Linked DNA regions of Homo sapiens. The protein of the gene in region 4 purifies or fractionates together with the protein of the main gene of each other region. This does not show direct contact. Each region holds a gene or a part of one and is shown on either strand. Other genes may lie near its edges.

Evidence for each region.
Region 1: the proteins of ITGB5 (region 4) and TLN2 purify together in Homo sapiens (co-immunoprecipitation; one study listed by IntAct). This does not show direct contact.
Region 2: the proteins of ITGB5 (region 4) and THBS4 purify together in Homo sapiens (co-immunoprecipitation; one study listed by IntAct). This does not show direct contact.
Region 3: the proteins of ITGB5 (region 4) and SEPTIN2 fractionate together in Homo sapiens (co-fractionation; one large-scale study listed by BioGRID). This does not show direct contact.
Region 5: the proteins of ITGB5 (region 4) and TIMD4 purify together in Homo sapiens (affinity purification with western blotting, with the first as the bait; one study listed by BioGRID). This does not show direct contact.
Region 6: the proteins of ITGB5 (region 4) and OSTM1 fractionate together in Homo sapiens (co-fractionation; one large-scale study listed by BioGRID). This does not show direct contact.
Region 7: the proteins of ITGB5 (region 4) and FERMT2 purify together in Homo sapiens (co-immunoprecipitation; one study listed by IntAct). This does not show direct contact.

The regions. Positions count from the first base shown.
Region 1 is NC_000015.10:62,736,550-62,740,049, reverse strand, and holds part of TLN2 (talin-2), read right to left. Parts: intron 3,173-3,500; coding exon 2,964-3,172; intron 1,837-2,963; coding exon 1,717-1,836; intron 703-1,716; coding exon 505-702; intron 1-504. UniProt on the Homo sapiens protein: As a major component of focal adhesion plaques that links integrin to the actin cytoskeleton, may play an important role in cell adhesion. Recruits PIP5K1C to focal adhesion plaques and strongly activates its kinase activity.
Region 2 is NC_000005.10:80,066,348-80,069,847, reverse strand, and holds part of THBS4 (thrombospondin-4 isoform a precursor), read right to left. Parts: intron 3,500-3,500; exon of another isoform or gene 1,967-3,499; intron 1,876-1,966; coding exon 1,723-1,875; intron 1,335-1,722; exon of another isoform or gene 1,074-1,334; intron 1-1,073.
Region 3 is NC_000002.12:241,339,925-241,343,424, forward strand, and holds part of SEPTIN2 (septin-2), read left to right. Parts: intron 1-3,067; coding exon 3,068-3,169; intron 3,170-3,500.
Region 4 is NC_000003.12:124,845,866-124,849,365, forward strand, and holds part of ITGB5 (integrin beta-5 isoform a precursor), read right to left. Parts: intron 2,694-3,500; coding exon 2,444-2,693; intron 1-2,443.
Region 5 is NC_000005.10:156,928,727-156,932,226, reverse strand, and holds part of TIMD4 (T-cell immunoglobulin and mucin domain-containing protein 4 isoform 1 precursor), read left to right. Parts: intron 1-3,500. UniProt on the Homo sapiens protein: Phosphatidylserine receptor that plays different role in immune response including phagocytosis of apoptotic cells and T-cell regulation.
Region 6 is NC_000006.12:108,050,742-108,054,241, forward strand, and holds part of OSTM1 (osteopetrosis-associated transmembrane protein 1 precursor), read right to left. Parts: intron 458-3,500; coding exon 290-457; intron 1-289. UniProt on the Homo sapiens protein: Required for osteoclast and melanocyte maturation and function.
Region 7 is NC_000014.9:52,941,051-52,944,550, forward strand, and holds part of FERMT2 (fermitin family homolog 2), read right to left. Parts: intron 1-3,500. UniProt on the Homo sapiens protein: Scaffolding protein that enhances integrin activation mediated by TLN1 and/or TLN2, but activates integrins only weakly by itself. Binds to membranes enriched in phosphoinositides.

The DNA.
Region 1 (3,500 bases), on a different chromosome or scaffold from region 4:
AACAAAAAACACAGCTCTGCAAGCTGACACCAGATCAGTCAAGCTCCCTTGTTCTAAACAAGGGGTTTATCTGTTCATCTGAAGGAGGTAATTTTTAATCACTTGACACTCTGTATTAGACACAGACCATCTGAATGGTCCATTAAACCTCAAATACATATATATTTTTATTGTATTATCCCACATTTGAAGAGCTGTTCTAATCTTTGTTAAACATTCTCCCTCCTCCTACCCTCCCTCCAAATAGTAAGACTATGAATTCTGCTGGAGGATCGTGGGAGAAGTTATTCTTTATTACTAACAGCACCTCATGCATAAGCTGATAGCATCTTTGGGAATGCCATTCCCATGAGGGCATGAGCTTCCTAAGCAGCAAAAAGAATGCAACCATGGCCTGCCTGTTTCCAGGTTCCTTTTCCTATTTGTTCAGTCAGTCTCAAGGATGGATTATCCATCCGAGAGGAGAGGCTAAGGTCAACTCCAGACAACCACCTCCACACCCACCTGAGCTTGGCCAGCCATCTCAATGCCAGCATCGAGGAATTCATCAAAATCATCACTGAACTTTCCAGAGGCTGCAGCCAACTCTCCACTCTGGCCCCGGGTGGCATGGACCACTTCCCCAGCAGACTGGTTCAGATCAGCTGCTGCCTGGTTCAGTTCACTCTGGGCTTCCTGGAAAGGCTTCGTGCTTGGAGGTAGCTGTGGGGAACAGACGGCACACCCCATGAGACATTCTGCTTTGCAGGGGAGGGATAAAAGGAAGGTATTGTGGAAGGGAGACAGACTCTTCAGAGATGCATTTGAGTCATCACGATTAAAAGGCTCTGAGTCATCTGAGCCCATTTTATTAATAGGTTTGACCACCAACATATACATCCATTCATTCATTTAAATGTATCAAACACCTGCTCAGTGCTAGACACTGTGGATCTAAAAATGTAAGCTATCTACAGGGGCTCAAGGTTTCCTAAGTGGCAGAGACAGGATCCACACCAAGGCAATCCGACTCCAGGGTCCATTCTCTAAAACTCTACCCTATTTTGTCTCTGTTAAGATGAAAGCTAAGTTTTAGCTTTGTAAACTAAAAGGCAGATGCTCTCAAACTTCAAATCACGTTCTTCCAAACTAATAGCCACCAATTATATTAGTGGCCTTTGCTAATAACTTTTAAATGTCATCTAGCAGACTGATAACCATTTGTGAAAAGTTCTAGGGAGTTAAGCTAGACTCTATTCATCACCCACAAACATTGCCTCTATACCTGTGCAGAGAAGAAACAAAGATGCACCAGCACAAACCCTCCTTCAGCAGACTCACAAAGCAGGGAAGGGAACAGGCCCCAAGGTGAAATTCCTCAGACTACTCGCTCTCTCACTGAGGCTTGGACACACGTACCCTTCCAACACCTGACTGTCACTATCTGAGATGTCCTGATGAGAAGACAGGTGATCACATACCCCTTTGCCTGTCTCACCGGGACGATCCGAGAGGAAATGGCAACATGGGCTCAAAGAAAAAGTAAACTTTAAAAGCTCCACCTGGGAACTTTGTTGATCAGACAGCAAAACATGGAAAACAAAGACTGGCGGGAAAAACAGGACTCCTAAAGGAAGGGTTAGCTGCTCAGAGATCTCATGGAGAGAAGAAGACTTCACTCACACCTAACGCGAGCCTAGTCCCCCAGTGTCCTTTCTCAATCTAAGAACCTCTCACCGAATCCACAAGCAGCTTCTTGCTGGACTCCCCGATGCTCTTCAAGGCCACGTCCACATCCTTCTGCCCAGGGAGGCAATTTACGCAGTTATTCAAGGAGTGTGAGACGGCTTTAGCCACCTGAATTCGTGGAGAGAGAGAAGCACCTTTAAGTACAAACATTTCTGCACATTTGTTGGGAATGGGCAGTGAAACATGCAGAGCTGAAGCAGATACGGAAATGACCCACCAGCATCCACCTGCCACTCTTACCTGTCTTACATCACCTCATCCAGGCCCCTTGTCCCAGAGATGTTTTCCACCCTCTTATTGGGGTTAATATTCTGTCTCAGCAAAGGGTCCGACACAGTGACACAGCACATCCCACCTGCTCCCCAAAGCCAGGGTAAGCCACAGTTTTGTGATTCAAACATAGAACTCTCCAGCATGAGGTCAGGTTCTAAAGCAAAGATTTCTTATACCAAGAGAAATGAAAATATCTCCCTTCTTGGGAGCCCTGCTGAGGTCGCCGAGGTGGAAGGAGACCTTGAGTTTTTTGGATCACAATTAGAAGGCCTGTGGTTAATTTCTGCTCAGTGACTCATGGGGCCATCCTCCCAAACCTCACTCTGCCCAAGGGCAAGTGGGGTGCTCTGAGCACAACCTGGAGCTGCCCTCACGTTGCCTAGAAATGTTTGGTGGCTCCCTGTTTGCATTCTTTGGTATCCTCAATTAAAAGGAAGGTCTTTGGAGGTGGGGAGTGTCATTCCCTCTCATCTAAGCCATCTCCTTCCCAGCCCCACGTCCAGGACTCTGCCTGGATGCTCCTTAGCCAACTGGTTCCATCAGGCAGTCGAAGAATCATTTAAAGAAGTAATAGAGCGCCAGGGTTGAAAACTTCTGAGTGGCCAGCCCTAGCGGATCTACCTCATTCCCTGGCAAGGAACAGCAATATAGCTCAGCACACATAGGCCCAAAACAAGCATGTTATGTCCTGGCTCTGAAACTCCCAAGGACAGAATTCAAAGGCCCCCATGCCCTCTGCTGACTGTGAATTAAGCAGATCACACATTACTGTGGAGAATACTAGGCAAGACTTACAAAAGTGAGTATCATGTATGGCCAGCATCGTTATGACCTTTGGAAGTTTCTGAAAACATCTGCTGTGTCAGTGTTCATATCAGGGAAAAGTGCCCAGGAGACAGCCCGACCACATGTCCACGTTAATGATGACCATGACAACCACAATTTCTCATTCCTAGCCTCACCTGAGCCAGTCTTTGTTGACGCTCTGCATCTCCAGGTGCAATCAGGGCCTGCTTGGCCTCTTGAATGAGCATGGCGGAGCCCTCCATCACGTCTCGAGCAGAATCTAACATGGCATGGGCGGCCGCGGGGTCGGTTGTCGATGCAGCCACTCCACGGGCGGCCTGGGCCAGTGTTTTCAGAGCTTGGGCCGTCTCTCTAGCAGCCACCCCTGGGGGAAAAAGTCCATCAGATTTCCAATTAGACTCCATCTAAATGGCACATTTTACTTAGGAATAAGCTTCTGGACCAGGGCCTGGCACAGAAGGGGAGCTGCAGATTAGTCTTCATAAAATTTGAATTGCTGTGTTTCTCAAAGAAGTAGCTGGCTTCAGAAACATATCCCCCTGGCTCTGGGCCAAACCAAGAGACACATTAATAACAAATGCAATACTAAAGACTTCTTCCCCCTGACTTCCCTTGCTCCCACTGCCCCACTGTCCCTAGACCTAGAACACCAAGTGCATGGCAGTGAGTACACAGATGGAATTACCTGCACA
Region 2 (3,500 bases), on a different chromosome or scaffold from region 4:
CTCAGCCACAGCCTGCTTATTCTCAATCATCTGTGCTCTCCCTCTGCAACCAGGATTTAGGAGGCAGAACTCCAGAGAGACCCTCCCGGGCTCCTGGTTCCTGCTCACTTGCCCCAGCAGGGCCTTTGGAAGGCCTGGAAGGCTGATCCACGAGGCTGATCCTTGACTCACTTTAATGAGGAAAAAATGTCCTCTAGGAACAAATACATTTTTAATGAGCTATTTTCTGGCAGATTCAATTATTTTAGTAGTCACGCCAAGTTTATTAATCCTTTACCATCTGTCGTTGTGCCTTATTACAAATTCAAAAACATATTAAGAGCCCCATCACCCATCATCCCAGGGGAGTTGTCAATTTGTTCACAGAAAATGGGGATTTCAACAGAGATATACACTTGTTTCTCAATGACTGCTTTTTGGTAATAAACAAGCCCAACCATGAGGAATTCAGGAAATTGCTGGGGTTATTCCCCCTCTGATACACCACATTCTTCCATCTGACCTTGTTACAGAATATCTGTATTGCCAAGGAGGGCTGACTTCATTATATTTATTTATTAACTCATTTTTGACTCTTATTTTTCCTATTTGAAAAGTGGTAGGCTCATTGTGGAAAATTGTGTATGCATAAAGATAAAGAAGCATAACTTTGAGATAAAGATGGAAAAGGGCTCCGAGAATCCATCTTGCTACTCAGGGGTGATCACTGTGAACCAGTGACCCCAGAGTCTGACGGGCCACCGGCCGAGGGCCTGGCATCCCAGGAAGTGCAGAGGAGGGGGGCAGCTGAAGTCTGCTGATTTTTCAGTGCCTAGGATCCCCAGGACTTTGGATCCTTGGATTTGGGAATGGATGGCAGGCTGAGGACTCTGGATCCTTGGACTTGGGAATGGATGGCAGGCTGAGGACTCTGGATCCTTGGATTTGGGAATGGATGGCAGGCTGAGGACTCTGGATCCTTGGATTTGGGAATGGATGGCAGGAGCATGCCCTCTCCTTCACATAGGGCCCACTACAAGCTCAGCATGGGACCCATGTCAGGCCCTGCTGTGACTGCTCTACTCTCTTCCCAGCCTCCCCTCCCCAGACCAGCTCCGTGGCTGGAGAATGCACAGGAAGCGTGACCATTCATGGAGCTGTCCCTGATTGGAGTGGAGGTAGACATACAGCATGGCGCCGTCTGGCCCTGCCAGTCACCTGCCAAAGACGGAAGGTTTCTCCCGGAGGGACTATGACAGTCCCCACCTCTACACGATGGCCCACCCCCAACAGGAGCGTCAAGGCAGACAGACTCTGGAAGTTGTAAGGATGAGGACAGTTAGAGATGACAGCAGGTATGTTGTCATTATACAGGCAGGTAGATGGGGCAGAAGAAGGAAAGGGGAGAAGAATGTTCCTTCACCTCCCTGCTGCTGGCTTCTGGGCCTTTCCATAGAAGGTGCTTGGGAGCTGGGGCTTCACCGGAGGCTCTGGCATCCAGGTACCCAAGTGGACAGGGTTGCCCCCCAGCCAAGAGGGAGAGAAAAGGCAGCTGATGGTTAGATGGATGTCAGGCTGCTCCCCACAAACTCGGTGGACCCTGTTCCTATTACACTCCATGCTCATTTAATTGCAATGCTTTCATTTTGGAGTACTTTTACCCTGAAGCACATAGAAACTGGAGAGAGGTGGTGTTAAAAATGGAAGAGGAAAAATGATAGAGGAAGTCAAAAAACAACTTACCACACATGTCACATCCCCCTGCCTCTCTTCAATGCACTGGGCATTCACACTGCAAGGGTTCAGCTCTGGGTTTCTGCAGTTTCTTTCCGCTTTGCATCCCCTTATCTGATCACCAGTATACCCCGGCTTACAAGGCCCACAGCGGTAAGATCCCTGCAAGGAACAAAGATCAGGTGATGAGCTGAAAGCTGTGGGCAAAGGTACAGTTTGAGCAAAGGTACAGTTATTGTGTATATTTTCACAGGTACTCATTGCTGGCAGGAATCAGGCATCAGATCCATGCCTTCTTCTTTGCTTACATGTAAGATCATGTGAATGTTGATGAAAACACCATCAGACTGGAGGCTGCGTCCGGCCACTCAGACAAAGAAGGAATAGAAGTGAAGGAAGAAGGCTGGACTGTGAACCAATGACACTGAGTTGCCCGCGCCACCGTGGAGGGCATAGGGGACAGGTCAAAAGTTCCAGTGAAGTCCTGGGAGGTGGTGTGAGAAGTTTACTCTGGGGACAGGGAGATGATCTGCTTAAAAAGCAAGTTAATTTTTCTTATTGCTGTTCCTTTGGCTCTTTTACAATGGAATGACAAAGGAATGGGTGCACAGAGAAATGCTGGTGGCCTGCATTGAGAATTTCTGATGAGGTAGGCTGAGAAACTGACAAATGAGCTGTCAGCTCCGCTGCAATGACACTTCAGGGGCCAGGTTTTTTTAGCTTTTATATATATAATATATATTATCACACTGCACACTATATATGTAATAAATATTATACAATATGTTTAAAAAATGAAAATTAAAATTTTCATCTTTATTGAGGTATAATTGACAAAACTGAATATATTTAAAGTGTGCAGTGTGATGATGTGATATACGTATACATTGTGAAATGATTACCACAGTCAGTTAAGTAACACATCCATCAACTGACATAGTTACCTTCCTTTTTTTCTTTTTCAGTGAGAACACTTAAGATCTGCTCTCTTAGCAGATTTCATATATATAATATAGTATTATTAACTACAGTCACCATGCTGTACATTAGATCTTTTTCATCTTATGCAGTTTTATTGGCATAACATTTACAGGTCGTAAAAGACATCCATTTGAAGTATATATATTGTTTAATGATTTAAGTCACTCACAACCTCTTAGTTGCCAAATCCAATGCATGCTTTCCAATGACTTGTCTCGATCTTTCAGCCTCCCTGGCTGTGCTATCAGTTCGCTCCTTTTTCTGGCTTCTGCTCTTTTTCCTTGGCCTAGTCCTTCGTTTTTGGGGTTTCCTGGAGTTCTATTTACTGTCTACTTTCCTTCTCTCTAGGTGGCTCAGTTATTACCTTTACACCAAGATCTCGCAAATCTATTTGCAGACTACTTTGTCCTGGTAAAAGCTGAGAAGCAATAAATCCCCATCTATTCCTAAGCAATATAGCATTGCGGAGAAGAACTCAGGCTCTGTAGCCAACCTGGAAGATGTGTGACCTTAGTCTAAATACGTAACATTTCTTTTTTTTCTTTTTGGAGACAGGGTCTCCCTCTGTCACCCAGGTTAGAGTGCAGTGGCGATCACAGCTCACTGTAGCCTCAAACTACTCTTGTACCCAAATGATCCTTCGGCCTCAGCCTCCTGAGGAGCTGGGACTATAGGCATGCTCCACCATGCCTGGACTTAATGATGTAATATTTCTGTCCCTCAGTTTCTTCAATTGTAAAATGGGGATAATAATAATCCCTGTTTATGAGGTTGTTGTGAGGATTAAAATAAGTGACTTGATAAAT
Region 3 (3,500 bases), on a different chromosome or scaffold from region 4:
TCACTTATGTATTCCCAGAGTTCCGAATAATGTCTGGCACATAATAGATTTGTTGCATAATTGTTGTAATGAACACTGGTGTACATCTATCTTTTCACAATTGTGTGAGCCAAACGAATTCTTAGGAAATAAGTATACATTTAAATTTTTGAAGGATGACTAAATTTGCTCTAAAGTAAGTTTGTAACAATTTACATTTCCAAAGTGTACTCTTCTCTCCACCCCCTAAAACTGTCCTGGTTATGTTGCCAGTTTTTGTAATGTGTTTCCTGTCTGAGAAATTGTATCTCATTTGAATTTGCCTTTCCTTGATTGCCGATGTGAGTATCTGTGCTGGTGTTGATGCCGGTTGGTGTATTCTCTCAGGTTGCAGGGACTTGGCTCTTGCTTTTTTATTGACTTAACACATATACTTATTTTTAGATGTTGACTATCACGTTGCAGATGATTTCACCTGGTTTGACTTTCATTTTTTCACATTTTTCTTGGTGCTTTTTTCCAAAGCAATTTTTAAGCAGCATGTAGTCATGTTTGGCAGCCTTTTCCTAAATTGTCTCAAGTGCCTGCCAGTTTTTTAGAAAGTATTTGAACCTTTGAAGAACCCCTGGAAGCGTAGACGTTTTTATGCTAATAAATACTTTAGTAATTCCTACTTAAGGGAACTTCACCTTTTGTACTCTGCTATATTAAATTTCTTTGAGGTAGAAATGGGGGTGGTGTCAGGGTTAGAATGCTGTAATTCTAATCTCTAATCCTGTATGCGAAACATTTAGTGCTGGATTACAACATCTGAGATGAATCGAAATACTTCGAGCTTTTATCCCTTCCTTCTTGGGCCTCATTAATCACTTCTCTTCCTCCAGTTTCTCCTTGATGCCTACCAGTTTGTTCATTCTGCCCTATCTACAAGAACCTCTTGCCTCCTGCCAGCCTCTACTAGCTTCTTGCCTTCACCAGCCTTTCTTCTAGTCAGACACTTACTGGTAGCTGTTATCTGCCCTCCCCATGATCCTGTTCACTCAGGCTTCCTGTCATCCACCTGCAATTGCTCTCTCATGGGCTTGGCCAACAGTTCAGTTCTCAGATGTGGGCCCCACCTGTGGGGTTTGTGTGATTGGCAATTCTACTTCTGAAACTTCCCTTCCTTGGCTGCTGAACCACTGTGTTTGCTTTTCTATCTGCTGTTTTTTACCACCTTCCTTCCTGATCCCTGAAGGTCAGTATTCCTTAGTATTATTTTGATCACATTATTTCTGTGGCTTCTGATTTGCCCTTCCAGGTATCTTATTTCTTGTTGTGAACCACATTTACCCACAGGAGTCCTCTTTTGACCACTGATGGACTCCTGTCCTTCCAGCTCCCCTGTCTCTTTAAATGGTCCCACAATTCTTGAAATCATCCAGACTGAGAAATGTGTAAATTATTTTTTACTCATCACTTCTGACTCCTCTGCTCACTTTTAAATAGCTTACTAACTGTTTCCGAACTCTTCTCTCCTCCAAAGTGTAAGCTCCATCTTTATGAGGCCAGCATAGGACAAAAGATGAGGTTAGCATGGATGGATAGTAGACCAGGAAAGGGGCCGTAAGATGAGGACAGGTGAGCAAGTTCATGCTTCTTATTGCTCAGTTTCTCCCAGAGATAAGATGGTTCCTCCCATTTAGGAATAAGGATTTATGAAAAGACTGAAGGTCGAGTTACAGAGTAAAGGATGTAGAGAGGAGGGCCTTTTCTGGAGTTCTGAATTAGTGCAGACATTGTACTAAGACCAAATCTCTGACCATTCAAGGCCCTTTTTAGGTCACATTAAGGCTTTCCATTCTTAAAAACCAGAAAGCAAATCCAGTGCACAGTTTGAGGTCGGGATATTTTCTGCTCACGTTGCTCTTGTTCTCTCTTCCCTGAATGGCTCAGGTACTGAGGTGAGACCAAACAAAACTGTGGCCTGCCTGGTGCCTGTGAGAATGCCCACCATGCAATGAGCATTTGAGTGCTAGGGTTTTAATTGATTGACTGATGAATGCATTCGTATTTCAACTTCAGCCCAGTTCTTTCTCCCCTCAAGCCCCATCCCCCACACTACTGCCTGCTTGATAGGTCCGATTGTGGGATTTCACTGCTGACTGCTGGCTGCCTGTTGAATGAAATACAGATCCCCAGGTCGCTAGCCTGGTGTTGATGGAACTCTCCACTTTGTAATTCCAATTTTTGTTTCCTTATCCAACTGGATGTCTTAGATTCCAACCTTTTGAATTTCTTATTCTCAAAATGCACCCCATGTGTCCTCTCTGTGCCTTTGACGAGGTTTTGTTTTTTTTTCTTTCTTTCTTCCTTTTTTTCCATCTGGGGTACTTCTCCCTTCTCTCTGCTTTTAAGACTCCTGCCTGTTCTCCAGGGTCTTCTCATGCCTGTAGCTTCTCTGTGGCAATTACCCTTCTTGAGGCTGATTGTGGTGTGATTTCCATTTTAGCTGTTGTGCTGGGGCTATCGTTAGTCTTCCTGCTGCTTTGTACATTGAGGGTAGTGGTGCATTATTGCTAATGTTATTTTTATTCTGTACAGAGGATCCTCAAAATTCAAGTATAAATACCTTTCTAGCAGTTTTGTAAATTTTTTTTTTTTTTTTTTTTTTTTGAGACGGAGTCTTGCTCCGTCACCCAGGCTGAAGTGCAGTGGTCTCAGCTCACTGCAAGCTCCGCCTCCCGGGTTCACGCCATTCTCCTGCCTCAGCCTCCCCAGCAGCTGGGACTACAGGCGTCCACTGCCACGCTTAGCTAATTTTTTTGTATTTTTAGTAGAGACAGGGTTTCACCATGTTAGCCAGGATGGTCTCCATCTCCTGACCTTGTGATCCACCTGCCTCGGCGTCCCAAAGTGCTGGGATTACAGACGTGAGCCACCACACCCGGCCGCAGTTTTATAAATTTATTTGACAGTAACTTTCGTCATCAGTTTGATTATTGACATTTGTATGATTTCCAATATATTTCTTACAAGATGAGCTAGAATTGGCTACAATAACATACGCAGTTTGCTAAAATTGATCCTGGTTTTGTCATTCTCTCAGATTCTGGATGAAATTGAAGAACATAACATCAAAATCTATCACTTACCTGATGCAGAATCAGATGAAGATGAAGATTTTAAAGAGCAGACTAGACTTCTCAAGGTAAGAACTGGCTTCAGATCCACAACATAAATAACTCCTGTTTACTGTTGTCCATGTTGAGGTGAGAGAGATTGCCTGGGTATGTTCAGTTACGAGAGTATTTTTGCTTTCAATATATTTTAAGACCTCATGCAGTGGCTCATGCCTATAATCCCAGCACTTTGAGAGGCCAAGGCAGATGGATCAGTTGAGGCCAGGAGTTCCAGACCATCCTGGCCAACATGGTGAAATCTCATCTCCATCAAAAATACAAAAATTAGGTGGATGTGGTGGTGCACACCTGTAGTCCCAGCCACTCGGGAGGCTAAGGCAGGAGAATCACTTGAACCCA
Region 4 (3,500 bases):
GATGCTGTTGCTCCTGGTAAGCAGCAAAATTTCAACAAAAACATTTGACACCCAGACTTAGCTGAAAAGGGCCTTGGAGACAGAATCAAAGTAGTAATAGTCCCTGTGGCCACCTGTCGCCAGGAGGAAGCTAAACCCAGCAAATGATGATGCCTAGTGCCTCTTCGTGGTTAAAGAATTTAGAGTTCATTTGTATTTAAAACTTTTTCTTGTCTGTTTTTCCACCAGTGTCAGTTCCCAATACCTGAAAAGATCTAAGTCAGCTTCTGGGAGAGTATACAGAAGGATCTGGAGGGATTCAGAAGAGCCTATGCCACCAGCACACTAACTTGCTCCTATCACCCAGCCCAACTTGGAGCTAGGAGCTCTGAAGGCTACCAAAGAGGACTTGTGGAGAGGGGAGGGCTCAGGGATTTAAGAACAGCTCTCTCCCCTTGGTGGCAGCTGGAAGACCAAGAATTGAGAATGGCATCACAAGATGGAAGGAGCTGGATCCCTGAGTTACTGCATGGAGAGCTGCCAAGGAAAGCAGCTCAGCCCTCATCAGATGTTGCACAAGCAAAAAAAAAAAAAACCAACAAAAAAAAAACGTTCATTGTGTTGAGCCACTGAGATTTGGAGACTCTACGTTACTGCAGCATAACCTACCATGATCCTCAGGTAAGCCCCTAGGACATGGGGGTAGGGTGGTTTAGGGACAGGTATTATTACTCAGCCTAAGGTAAAGTGTCTGTGTTGTAGTGTGATTTGAATGGGGAAGAAGACATTATATTAAACGCAAACGCAGGCCGGATGCAGTGGCTCATGCCTGTAATCCCAGCACTTTGGGAGGCTGAGGTGGATGGGTCGCTTGACGTCAGGAGTTCAAGACCAGCCTGGCCAACATGGTGAAACCCCATCTCTACTAAAAATACAAAAATCAGCCAGGTGTGGTGGCAGGCACCTATAATCTCAGCTACTCAGGAGACTGGGGCAGGAGAATCGGCTTGAACCCGGGAGGCGGAGGTTGCAGGGAGCCGAGATTGCACCACTGCACTCCAGCCTGGGCAACAGAGCAAGACTCCGTCTCAAAAAAAAATGCAAATGCAGACTCTAAAAGTAGTTTGTCTGTATTCATATTCCAGCTCTACCCCTTGCTGTTTGTATAATATTGGGTAAGTTATTCTCTCTAGGCCTCAGTTTCTGCATCTCTAAAATCTGGCTTACACTTACCTTAGAGACCTCAACAGATTGTTATGAGATTTAAATGAGATAATCCACAGAAAATATTTAGTATGGGGCTTGACACTTAGTAAAAACTTAAGTCTTAGTTATTTCCTATCTCATGACTAGTTTTGGACCTTACAACACAAACCCTCACTAAAGTTAAATGTGGAGATGAGGAAAGCAAGAGTTGGAAGTTACCACTCACTGCAGTCACTTGCATAATCTTGACATTTAAAGAAACTCCTGAAAGACTAAAAAGAAAAGAAACCAACCTAGTAGAGGTTGTGTTGCATGGGCTGAAGAATGCAATCCCCTCATACAACCACCCACCCCAGCATGCATACAAACGTCCCATGGCAGAGACCTGCTCACTAATCCTATTTCTTCTGATTCCTGGGCCTACAGCTACACTAGTTCCCAGCCTCCTGGCTCAGTCCTGTTCCGTCTAATAGCATGTGGGAGCGGGCATGGCAAAGGCCTATCCTCCTATGCATGACCCTCTAGGCAGCATGACCTTAGGAGCCATGTGTGGAAGATGGTAAAGCCTGGAAGATGGAAAGCACCTGAGTCCCTGAGTCACTGCTTGCAGGAGAAGTTCCATGGATGAAGAGACCCAGTTGGACTTGAGGAGCAGGAAATAAACTTCCAGCAAGTTTGAGCCATTATACACTTTGTTATTATAGAATCTGGCAGCAGTTAGAGACACCTGTTTTCTAATAATATGTCAAATCTTTTCTAGTTCAGGTGTTTATGTTGAAAAAAAAATTCTTACATTTAAAATAGGATTTTAATCTAATTATGTGAAAATAAGTTATAGTTATTTATAGAAAAACAACAGGGACAAATTTTGAATTCATTTCTCCCAAAGCACCTCAGTTACTACAAGCAAGGGGAAAGTTTAAGTTGCCCTGCCTGCTGCCTCCCTGATAATCTGGATCCATCACTCCCTGAGGACATTTTCTGAATTCTATTAATGTGAGCAAATGGTGCTGTGCATGGCAGGCAGGAAAATCAAGGGGTTGTGATCATTTTATCTTTACAACCTTGTGACAGTTCACTCACTTCTTCACACGTCAGGAAAGGAGAGAATGTATGCTTATCATTAATCAAATTAAACGCCTAAGCCTGGCCACCCCTCCTAACCATGCCTTCCTTAATTCTTTCTTTGAGCTAAATTTTCCTGCTTCTCCATTCTCCCACCCTTAAGTACCCAACAGAAGGGCAACTGGTCACTTACCCAATGCACGGATTGGTCTGGTACCTCGGTGCCGTGTAGGAGAAAGGAGAGATGTCCTTATCAACAAAAGACCCAAATCCCAACCGGAAGTTGCTGGTGAGCTTCCTCATCTCCTCCGCGAGTTTGGTGCCCAGGCTCCGGATATTGTCCAAGTCATCCTTCATGGACAGGGAGAGGTCCATCAGGTAGTACAGGTCCACAGGATAGTCCTCCACCTGGCGAACCTGTAGCTGGAAGGTGGTCTTGTCACCTGCACCAACAGAGAGGCCACGTGTGTTAGAGGTTGTGCAACCTGCTGAGGGCTGAGGGATGGGATTTGCTTTCAAAGCTAGTTTGCCTCTTACTTTTCTTTAGTGATTGTGTGCCTCACAGAAGATTTTTCTTGGAAGTAAAGTGCCTGAAGGGAATACGGTGCTGAGAATGGAGGCCTGGGTTCTCCTTCCTAAACATTCGGCTTAGCACTTCTTTTTTTATTTTATTTTATTTTTTTTGAGACAGTGTTGCTCTGTCGCCCAGGCTGGAGTGCAGTGGTGCGATCTTGGCTCACTGCAACCTCTGCCTACCAGGTTCAAGCGATTCTCATGCCTCAGCCTCCTGAGTAGCTGGGATTACAGGTGCCCACCACCATGCCTGGCTAATTTTTGCATTTTTAGTAGAGACGGGGTTTCACTATGTTGACCAGGCTGGTATCCAACTCCTGGCCTCAAGTGATCCACCTACCTCAGCCTCCCAAAGTGCTGGGATTACAGGTGTGAGCCACCACGCCTGGCCTGGGCTTAGCATTTCTAAGGAAACTCCTTAACAACCAGGCTCCTTGGTAGTGTTCTGTCTTCTCAGCAACAAAGACCCTTGAGTAATCAGTGGACAGTGAACCAGACAATTTCATGAACACAAACTGGGTGGAGAGTAGCCCACCAACCACATACCAACTCCAGAGAAAGACCCAGTCACGATGGGAATGTGCGTTTGAAACAAAAAGCAGGGAAGAAATGAACAAAAGAGGGGTGTGGGCCTGAGTGGGGAAGAACCAAGTTGGGGAGAGAGATGTGCAAGGCAA
Region 5 (3,500 bases), on a different chromosome or scaffold from region 4:
TGAGAAAATTTAGAAATTAGACAAAATTAAAATGGTACTAGGAAGAATAATTTTAATTGTCTTGATATTTCTACTTGAAAGCAGGTGTATTTAGTCTTTATGTTTCTTTTTAGTTTTCTTTGGGGAATAAGTATGCAAATATTTAAGAATACATAATTGTATTTCTGTATGTATTTTTAAGTATTTGCATACTCATTCCCTATACTAAGCGTAGTTTTATATCCTTTTAAAAGAATACTGTGTAATGATAATTTTTCTCAGTAAAATTCTTTGAAAAAAGATATCCAGAATTAGAAAGGTTAAAAAGGATATAGGAGATCAGTTGGTGAAATATTAATATTTTCAGATGAAGAAACTATGGCTCAGAGAAGGAAAGTATCTTAGCCAAGGTCGCATAGCCAGGAAAGTTGACATAAATACTTAGTGATGGCAGAGAGTCCCAGGATGCCACAGTGAGGAAGGCTGAGGGGCAAGCCCTTGGCAATACTCCAAGATCTAAGGTTAAGTGTTACAGGAATTTCATTTTACCAGAGTGCCCATGCCTACCAAGAACTCAAGAGACCAAAATACAAGCTAGAAAGCCAATTTACTAACTTACAGTAAGAATTCTAGCTGCCAAGAGATCTAACCTGTAATCCTCCTGTAAATGTATTCTCATCCTATAGAAACATCTAATATTAACCAGAAGGTTTGGTGAATCCATGGACCCAGGAAAAGTGGAGTTAATGTTAAGATTGTTTTGTTAATGTTTAAATTTTAATTAATTTAAGATACATCATACACACTCATGGAAAAAGTACAAAGCATGCAAAAAATGTTAACATGAAAAGTCAATCTTCCTTTCATATCTTGTGCCTGTCCCAGAACAACTGTTCTTTTGGAAGGTCTTAGGAACCACTGTCTCTGTATTAGTTTCTTGTTGCTGCTGTAACAAATGACCTCAAACTTACTGGCTTAACACACAAATTTATTATCTCAGAGTTGTGAAGGGTAGAAGCTCTAAAATCAAGGTGTTGGCAGGGCTATATTCATACTGGATTTGTTAGGGGATAATTTGTTTCTTTGCTTTTTCTAGCTCCTAGAGGCATTCCTTGGCTTGTGACTCCTTCCTTCATCCTCAAAGTCAGCAGCATAGCATCTTCAAATATCTCTCTCTCTCTGTGATCTCTTCTTCCTTTATCACACATCCTCTGACTTCTTCTCTAACTTTCTTGCCACCTCCTCATAAGGACCCTTGTAATTACATGAGACCCACCAGATAACCCAGGATAATCTTCTCATCACAAGATCCTTAGCTTAATGACATTGCAAAATATCTTTTGCCATGGAAGAGAACATATTCACAGTTTCTGAAGATTAGGACATGGACATATTTGGGTGTCATTATTTTGCTGACCACAGTCTCCAAACTACATTTGAGAGATGAATGACTCCTTCTTCTCTAGACCAGACTAATAATGTGTTCTGATGAAAAATAATGTATTCTTGTTATTAAGATGCTTATTTATATTTGTTTACCAATTTGTTCAGTACATTATGAAATATATCCTTCTGGAAAATGTTTAAAAGATAAGGTATAAATAAATGTAAATAGAAGTTGTCATTTTCCCCACAGCCAGTGGATTGCCTGCTACACTCATGGTGAGTACCGAGCCCTCTTTAGAGACCACTGTCCTAAACTATCCTTTTTCTACATTCAGTGCAAATCACTGTCCTGAACATTCCTTTCTTCTGTCAGTAGGACATGCTATTTATATGGTACAAGGCACTTGAACTCCAGCATAATGAGGTTGTTAACAGTATAGGTATTTATGTCAGTCAAACAGTTCAAATCCCAGCTCCACAACTACCACCTGTCCAACCTCCATCACATTGCTCAACCCCATGGGCCTCATTTTTTTCACTGGCAATATGGCATAATGTCTGTCTCATAGGGTTGCTTGTGAGGATTAAATATTCAGTGTGAGGCTGGGTGCAGTGGTTCATGCCTGTTATCCCAGCACTTTGGAGGCTGAGGCGTGCGTATCACTTGAGGCCAGGAGTTTGAGACTGGTCTGGGCAACATAGCAAGACCCTGTCTCTACTAAAAATACAAAAAATTGGTGGTGCATACCTGTAATCCCAGCTACTTGGGAGGCTGAGGCATGAGAATCGCTTCAACCTGGTAGGCGGAGGTTGCAGCGAGCCAAGATCGTGCCACTGCACTGCAGCCTGGGTGACCGAGCGAGACTCTGTCTCCAAAATAAATAAATAAATAATGTTCAATGGAATTTTAATAACAATATGACATTAGATTTATACTCTTTGGAGTTTAATACTAGGATCTTTCGTTGGATTTAGTCTTCTTACCTGTGCTCAGCACCCACTTCCTGACTTTTTTTTAGGTTGGTTACCCCTGTTTAAGGTTGCTTTCATTCTTTGTGTGTTGATTCCTTTGAATTTATTTCCTGGGGCTGCTGTAACACAAAGTACCACAAACTTAAAACCACGGAAATTTTCATTCTCTCTCAGTTCTGGAGGGCAGAAGTCTGACAAATCAAGGGGTTGGCACAGCCATGCTCTCCTTGGAGGCTCTAAAGGAGAACCCTTCCTTGCCTCTTCCTAGCTTCTGGTACTCCAGGGATTCCCTGGCTTATGACAGCATCACTCCCATCTCTCTCGTCTTCACATGACCTTCTCTGTGTGTGTCTCTCTGTGACCCCTTCTCTTAAGGACACCAATCATTGGATTTAGGGCCTACCCTAAATGTAGAATGATTTTGTCTCAAGAGCTTAACTAATTACATCTGCAAGGACACAATTTCTAAACAATGTCACAGTCTGAGGTTCTGGGTGGATGTGATTTGGTGGGGAGAGGGGGTAGTGATACTATGCTACTCATTATACTTCCCTCTTGCAGAATTGCTTTACTCCCAAGTTCTGGGAGGCTCCTGCCTTTGTCTCAATGTACATGTGTCAGAGCTCAGGGCCTTGAGAATCTAAGGGCTGGGGGAACACAGACAACCTGGAAATCAGTAGTTTTGCCTTGTCTAACCCCATCCCCTTGCCACTGGCATGGCTACTTTTCACAAGGAAGAAAAATCACAGTCAACTTGTTCTCAGTGTTGCCATTCTGTGTATGACACTGTAGCCCTTGGAGTGCTTCCCATTTGGGCTTTTAGCATCTTCAGAAGAAGAAGAAGAAGAAAGAAAAAAGTGCTGTTTGGTATCACGCAGCAGCATTTGTGTTTGCAAAATGTCTCTCCCATTGGACGATTCCAATTTAAAATACAGATTAGCTCTGACAAAACTGACCCAGGCTGGCTTTTCTGTTTGATAGTTTCAATTTCAGGCTTATTCATCACAAATGATTGTAATACAACAGGATTTTGACAGAACAAGGGTAGGAGTTTTGAATTCTTACCTGCAATTTTCAGCTCTAGGGGATAATTGCAGAGAGAAAAACAACAATAACTTAGTTCTAGGATATGAAAACATGCTGAATTTCCCCTTTGTTCCTAG
Region 6 (3,500 bases), on a different chromosome or scaffold from region 4:
ACATATTTTCAAATTTAAAAAGATTAAAATGTACCAAAGCATCAACTCACTTATGAAGTACCTAATTAATTTCTGTTTTATTTTTATCCTAACCATGAGACTACTAAGGAAATATCCATTTTGGTTTAACAGACCAGGATATTCTAAAACTTTACTACTTTATAACTAGTTATTTTTGGTTGAGGACAGAATATGCAGATTCCACCCTATCACCAAAAATAATAATCATACTGAAGGTACATTCAATAACACTCTAAAATATGTATCACATCAGAAGCAAAGTACTTACTGCATCTTCCACATCAATGCATAAATGTGTTCCAGGTTCAGCCTTATTCTCAAGTTCATTCATTTTTTGCATTTCACTGTACAGACTACTCAGAGTTTTGTATGCTTCACGGCAGTTTTTGCATACTTCTGAATAATTTTTTGTCTGTAAAAGACTATGTGCATTCCCCTAAAATGACAAAGGCACATGTAATATATACAATAAACATTATATACAATATCTCTTTAATGTAAGCTATTTACGCTTCTAGAAGACGGGAAACAATATGGTGTGTTAAAGTGCTAAGCTGTGATGTTGAGTAGGTTACTAAATCACTCTGAGTCTCAGTTTTATCATCTATAAAATAAAACGACCTCTACCTGTATTATAAGTCCGAAGGATTAGAGACCCGGTATGTGAAGCAGATGGCAAACTGTTTGGAACTTTCTAGGTGCCTCTAAATTTTCAAAACTGCTGCATTAGCTAATGTTAACTGAGGATAACAATAATTCATATGCCAAATGACTAGTAACTAAATACAAAATTTCCTAAATTATCTCATCATCACAAACCCTCACTTATCTATCCTACTCTCACTGAATAAATAAAATAGGTTCCTGCCTATGCTGACTTGAACACCATAGTTTATCTTACTGAGACAGAACTTTTTAAATGGAAAGGGAAAAGGCACCAAAACTGCATCCCCACTCAACTCTCTTATCACAAGGCTCATAATCCAGGCCTTTCTAGTCAACAAAAAGGGCCAAATACCAAAGAATTGTATAACCTAAAATGAGGATAGTGGAGGTACATAAAATATTATGCTACTAAATCTCAATATTTTGTACTTCTAGACTGACACTTGTCTTTTCAAGAATAAGTTTGCTAAACAGTCAGTTCACACCTTTGCTTTCTATGCCCTTTATTCTTTACTTTGTAGTATGAAGAAAGAATATTAACTGAACATTGGGATGAAAGAGAAAAGAGAAAAATCAAAGTAATTACACTGATGTTGGCCCAACAATGTTACCCTCACCATCTGCTTGACAGAAAAACTAAGTCTCTCCTTAGTCTGCTACAAGAAATAGCCCATTGCTTGTTTTTCACAGAACAATTGTGCACTTAGTTAAAAATTGAGCACAGGGCTGGGCGCGATGGTTCACACCTGTAAACCCAGCACTTTGGGAGGCCGAGGTGGGCGGATCACAAGGTCAGGAGATCGAGACCATCCTGGCTAACACGGTGAAACCCCATCTCTACTAAAAATACAAAACTTAGCCGGGCGTGGTGGCGGGCACCTGTAGTCCCAGCTACTTGGGAGGCTGAGGCAGGAGAATGGCGTGAACCCGGGAGGCGGAGCTTGCAGTGAGCCGAGATCGCGCCACTGCACTCTAGCCCGGGTGACAGAGCGAGACTCCGTCTCAAAAAAAAAAAAAAAAATTGAGCACATAATCCATTTAACTAAAATTGTGCACATAATCTAGATGGGGAGTAATTTAACCTTTTTTTTTTTTTTTTTTTTTGAGACACGGTCTTGCTATTTTGCCCAGGCTAATTTCTAACTCCTGGGCTCAAATGATCCTCCCACCTCAACCTTCCAAAGTGCTGGGATTACAGGCAGGTGCCACCATACCTGGCCACAATTTTTATTCAAATTTAAAATGCACATATCTTTTAATAATGTGAAAGTTGCAGACATTAGGATGAAATCACCTTTTGACAGACCAAGACAAAATAGAGACAAAAAGAGTCCTTGTTTCCAAAGACTTTCTAAAAACCCCACAAGAAATCCTTTCACGCCCTTCATTGCAACTCCTGCTTTCACATGGTTTATCACTGCCATTCTTTAGGACTGCAGTAATTCAGATAAGATGCACTCAAAAGAACACTTGCCCAGTAATGGCATCGCCACCAATGAACTGACAACTTGGCTTTGAGCCTCAGGAACCAATGAACTCAGTTTCCAAGCAGCTTGTGTGAACCTCTCCCTTTTTGCTAATAAAAGCTTCCCTTTACCCTTCCCTCACTGGATGTACTGGTGGTTTGCCAGTGCATTCCAAATTACCATACTTCTTTCTTATTCCCTAATAAACTCATCATATTTGGAGATAATTTTCTCTAGTGTCTTTTTCTTAGGCTGCCAATATAGTAATTCTACTTCTAGAAATCTACCAAACTCATACAAGTACTCTAAGTTAAATGAAAAGAAGACTGTTTATGGTGTACAATTTAAAACTTATTATTTCCAGAATTTTCCATTTAATATTTTTGGACTGCAGTTGGCCACAGGTAACTGAAACTGTGGAAAGTGAAGCCATATATAAAAGGGATGACTTTATAGAAAAATTGCTATTTGAGTGTTACAACACACATCAGTCCACTAAAGGCTCTGAAGTCCTGTAGTAAAGCATTTCCCAACCTTAATGGAATACTAAACCCTTTCTGATAGGACATCTATTAACATGCTGCAGAACAAATTCTGAGAAATGTTCACCTAATTTTTTTTATTTTATTTTTTTGAGACAGAGTCTCTCTGCAACGCCCAGGCTGGAGTGCAATGGCACGATCTCAACTCACTGCAACCTCTACTTCACTACAGGCGTGCACCACCAAGCCTGGCTAAGTTTTGTATTTTTAGTAGAGACAGGGTTTCACCATATTGGCCAGGTTGATCTCGAACTCCTGACCTCAAGTGACCTGCCTGCCTTGGCCTCCCAAGGTGCTGGGATTATAGGCATGAGATACTGCACCTGGCCCAATTTTTATTATTCTCAAGGAAATTCATAATTCAGTGTTACCACATTTATTACAGAAGAAATCATACATGCTTATACCCTAAGCATGTGTACATCTACTATGGGGATTACTTACTTGTTATGTAAGTTTCAAAACTACATTTTAACCAGAGTTCCAACCTCGTCCTTCACCACGACCGGGCAAGTTCCAATACCAAAATTCAAGAGTCAGAGATAGAGATGGCAATAATCTACAAGGTTAAGATTCTTAAAGCTACCTTTTATTATCATAATTCAATACTCAAAGTTATCTTACTAAACAGTGCTTTTTAAGGTAGGTAAAACATACTTAAGCAAATTTCAGGCAAAGAATAAACTTCCTATAGACAGAATCATACTACACTGCAAAATACCTACGTAAGTCAGATTGAAAACCATTGTGTTTTAATTAAACAATCACACACCTCAATCAATGTTTTCACAATCATTATCTCACC
Region 7 (3,500 bases), on a different chromosome or scaffold from region 4:
CCTAAAACTGGGAGTAACCCAAATGCCCTTCAATTGCTAAATGGACAAACTGTGAAATAATCCATTCAATGGACTACTACTCAGTGATAAAAAACTATTGATACAAACACATGAACGAAGCTAACATGTATTATGCTAAGTGAAAGAAACCAGATTCAAAGAGCTAGAACTGAATGGTTCCATTTGCAGGCCATTCTAGAAAAGGCAAATTATCACTGGTTTTTAGGATCTGGGTTTGAGGCGATGAGACGGTTACAAAGGAAACTTTTGGGAGTACTGTAAAAGTTTTCTATCTTGACTGTGGTAGTTTTACATGTCAAAACTCAGAATATTATACTAAGAAGGATAAATTTTACTATATGTCAATCAGACCTCAATGAGCCTGACACTAAGAAAAAAAATTAACAGGAAAAACAATTATATAGTAATTATGCAACTAATTTGTTAAAGAATGAATTATAACGAATATGAATTTGTAACCACAAACCCAAGTGCAGAAGTCACACTTCTTAATTACAAAATAAAAGAATTATTTAAAAATACACTTTCAGATGTATTTGTTTACTTCTCACTGGGCATATATACCAATTTTAAATGTTCCATGGCATAAGCATTAATTTGTCAGTAAAATAATTATTTAAATAGGAATACTGCATACATTAGCTTTTTTCTGAAACTACTTTCATTAGTTTCTAAATAGGCCCAATGTTTTCATGTGCCTTTGCTATAAATGAACTAAAAACACTGCTCTTATAGAATATATTAAGTAGAGAATTAATTTACTACTGATGCTTTCATGGTTTTAGATTTTTCAAATACCTGGAATACCATCATCCACTTATTGGTCCCCTGCATTTCAGAAATCTTATTAAAATGGTACTTAAATAGCTCTCTTACACTGCAGAGGCAGGTGTGTGTTTGGAAGTTGGCGGGAAAGTAAAATGACAGCTATTTTTTCTTGTTGTTTAGAGGGTGGGAACAGAAAGCAATCCTAAACTAAGCTTTTTTTGAGGAGTGCAATTCCCCACCAGTAAAGCTGGAACTTATTAAATATACTAGATTATATTTTAACCTACTTTTCCTTTTTTTCCTTCCTACTTTCATATACTCAGAGACTCAATGCCACAGAGAAGTATCCACTCTCATTTGCATAACACAAATAGTTTATATAAAGTATATATACATGTAGTATCAATATATATGTATTATCTCATTTAATTCTCACCAAAACCTGTGAGAAAATGTTTTTCTTTTTCTTTTTTTTTTTTTTGAGATGGAGTCTTGCTCTGTCACCCAGGCTGGAGTGCAGTGGCGCGATCCCGGCTCACTGCAAGCTCCCCCTTCTGGGTTCACACCATTCTCCAGCCTCAGCCTCCCGAGTAGCTGCAACTACAGGCGCCCACCACCACGCCCAGCTAATTTTTTGTATTTTCAGTAGAGACGGGGTTTCATCGTGTTAGCCAGGATGGTCTTGATCTCCTGACCTCGTGAGCCACCTGCCTCGGCCTCCCAAAGTGCTAGGATTACAGGCGTGAGCCACCCCGCCCGCCCCAAGAAAATTTTTTTCAATTTCTATTTTATAGAAGTCAAAACCCACTCAGGTTGGATTCATTGTCCAAAGGTCATACTAACCAGTAAAGTAGCAGACAGAGCCAGAAGTTGAATCCAGATCTTCTGACACACTAGGCAACCTGTTATTTCTTAATAATCTGTGCCTCCATCAGCACCTACTACAGTCTGAGAACAGCTGACATTATGGGAAACCTACATCCAATGATGTCTAAAACTATTATTAACAGCTTATTTAATAGTAAGCTAAGAAGTAAACTAAATTTTAAAAATAAAGTATGTGAAAAAGAACCTATAAAAATATCACTCTTGGCCAGGCGTGGTGGCTGATGCCTGTAATCCCAGCACCTTGGGAGGCCGAGGTGGGCGGATCGCCTAAGGTCAGGAGTTCAAGACCAGCCTCGCCAACATGGTGAAATCCCATCTCTATTAAAAATACAAAAATTAGCGTGGTGGCGGGTGCCTGTAATCCCAGCTACTTGGGAGGCTGAGGCAGGAGAATCACTTGAACTTGGGAGGCGGAGGTTGCAGTGGACTGAAATCGTGCCACTGCACTCCAGCCTGGGTGACAAGAGCAAAACTCTGTCTCAAAAGAAAAAAAAATCACTCTGAAGTGAAATTTGCACTGATACTAAGAACCTTATTTTAAAAAGGTTAAACAATGTCTTAAAAGACCAAGGCTGAGGAACTGTTCTACAGGGTGGCCATAAAGTTTACAAACAGATACTATCATTTTACATGTATCTTAATGTAATGTCAATAAGCCATTTATTATATAATCTCCTGTAGCTCCACACTTGGTGGCTGTTCTGTATATCAAAGGAGATTAAGAGGCCCTTTCAACTAAATGCGAAATGAGATTCTGGATGGGAAAAAAACAAAGGCCATTATTGGGACAACTGGCAAATTTTGAAAATGGATGCATATTAGATGACAGAAGTGAATCAATGTTGAATTTCCTGAATGTGATCACTATACTGTAATTATGCAAGAGAAGTTTCTTGTTCTTAGGTGATACATATTTAAATATTTAGGAATCAAAGGTTATGAGTAAGTCTGAAACTTCATCCAACTGCTCCCCAACATGTGTATGTTTGTGTGTATAGAAAATTCAAATGGCAAAATACTAACTGGTGTCTAGATGAAGATTACGCAGTGTTCACTCAATTACTCTTGAACTTAGATGTTTGAAACTTTTAAAAATTAAGAGCCAAAGATAACAGGTAAAATTTTACATATTTTCTTTCCATTCTCTTCAATAGCGAGCGATTAGACATTTCCAACAAGGCCTTTTATAAGTAATTGAATAAACATATTTTTAGCATCTCTATAAATAAGTTAACTCTAGTTGGAAACAAACAGTTTTTTACTTTAAAAAACTGGGTATAAAACATAGCAGCAAAACAAAAACAAAAGGCAGCAAATAGCACATACTCTAAGGAATAGCTCATACTTTATTAGCTGTCACAGGATTACAGTAAAACTTGAGTACTGTCCTCCACTTTTAAAGAACTTAAAATTTGCTAAGAAACTGATACAATTTAATTCACTTCCTATGGATCATGAACAGTGTTTTAAACACTGAGTAAACTTACTATCAGATTTAACCAAAACTTAATTCACTTTAATAAGATTTTAACATTGTTTCCTACTCCACCCCCAAGATTTAAAAAAATTTCTTATAATGTTAATGTATTTCACTATGAATGCAATGAGGATGCATCATGTAGGCATTAATTTCCATGAATTCAGTTGTGAGCCCTCAAGGGGAAAAACTAAGGATTTCAACTGCATAGGCACCATTCCACCAAATAAGCACACACCTTCCCCAGGGAGCACTAAGCCAGGGTATAAGGGAGCTGTCCAGTTACGTATGCCTCTTTCCCAGTGTGCATCTTGCCAAGCTCTAATCCTAGTGTTTAAAGTATTTT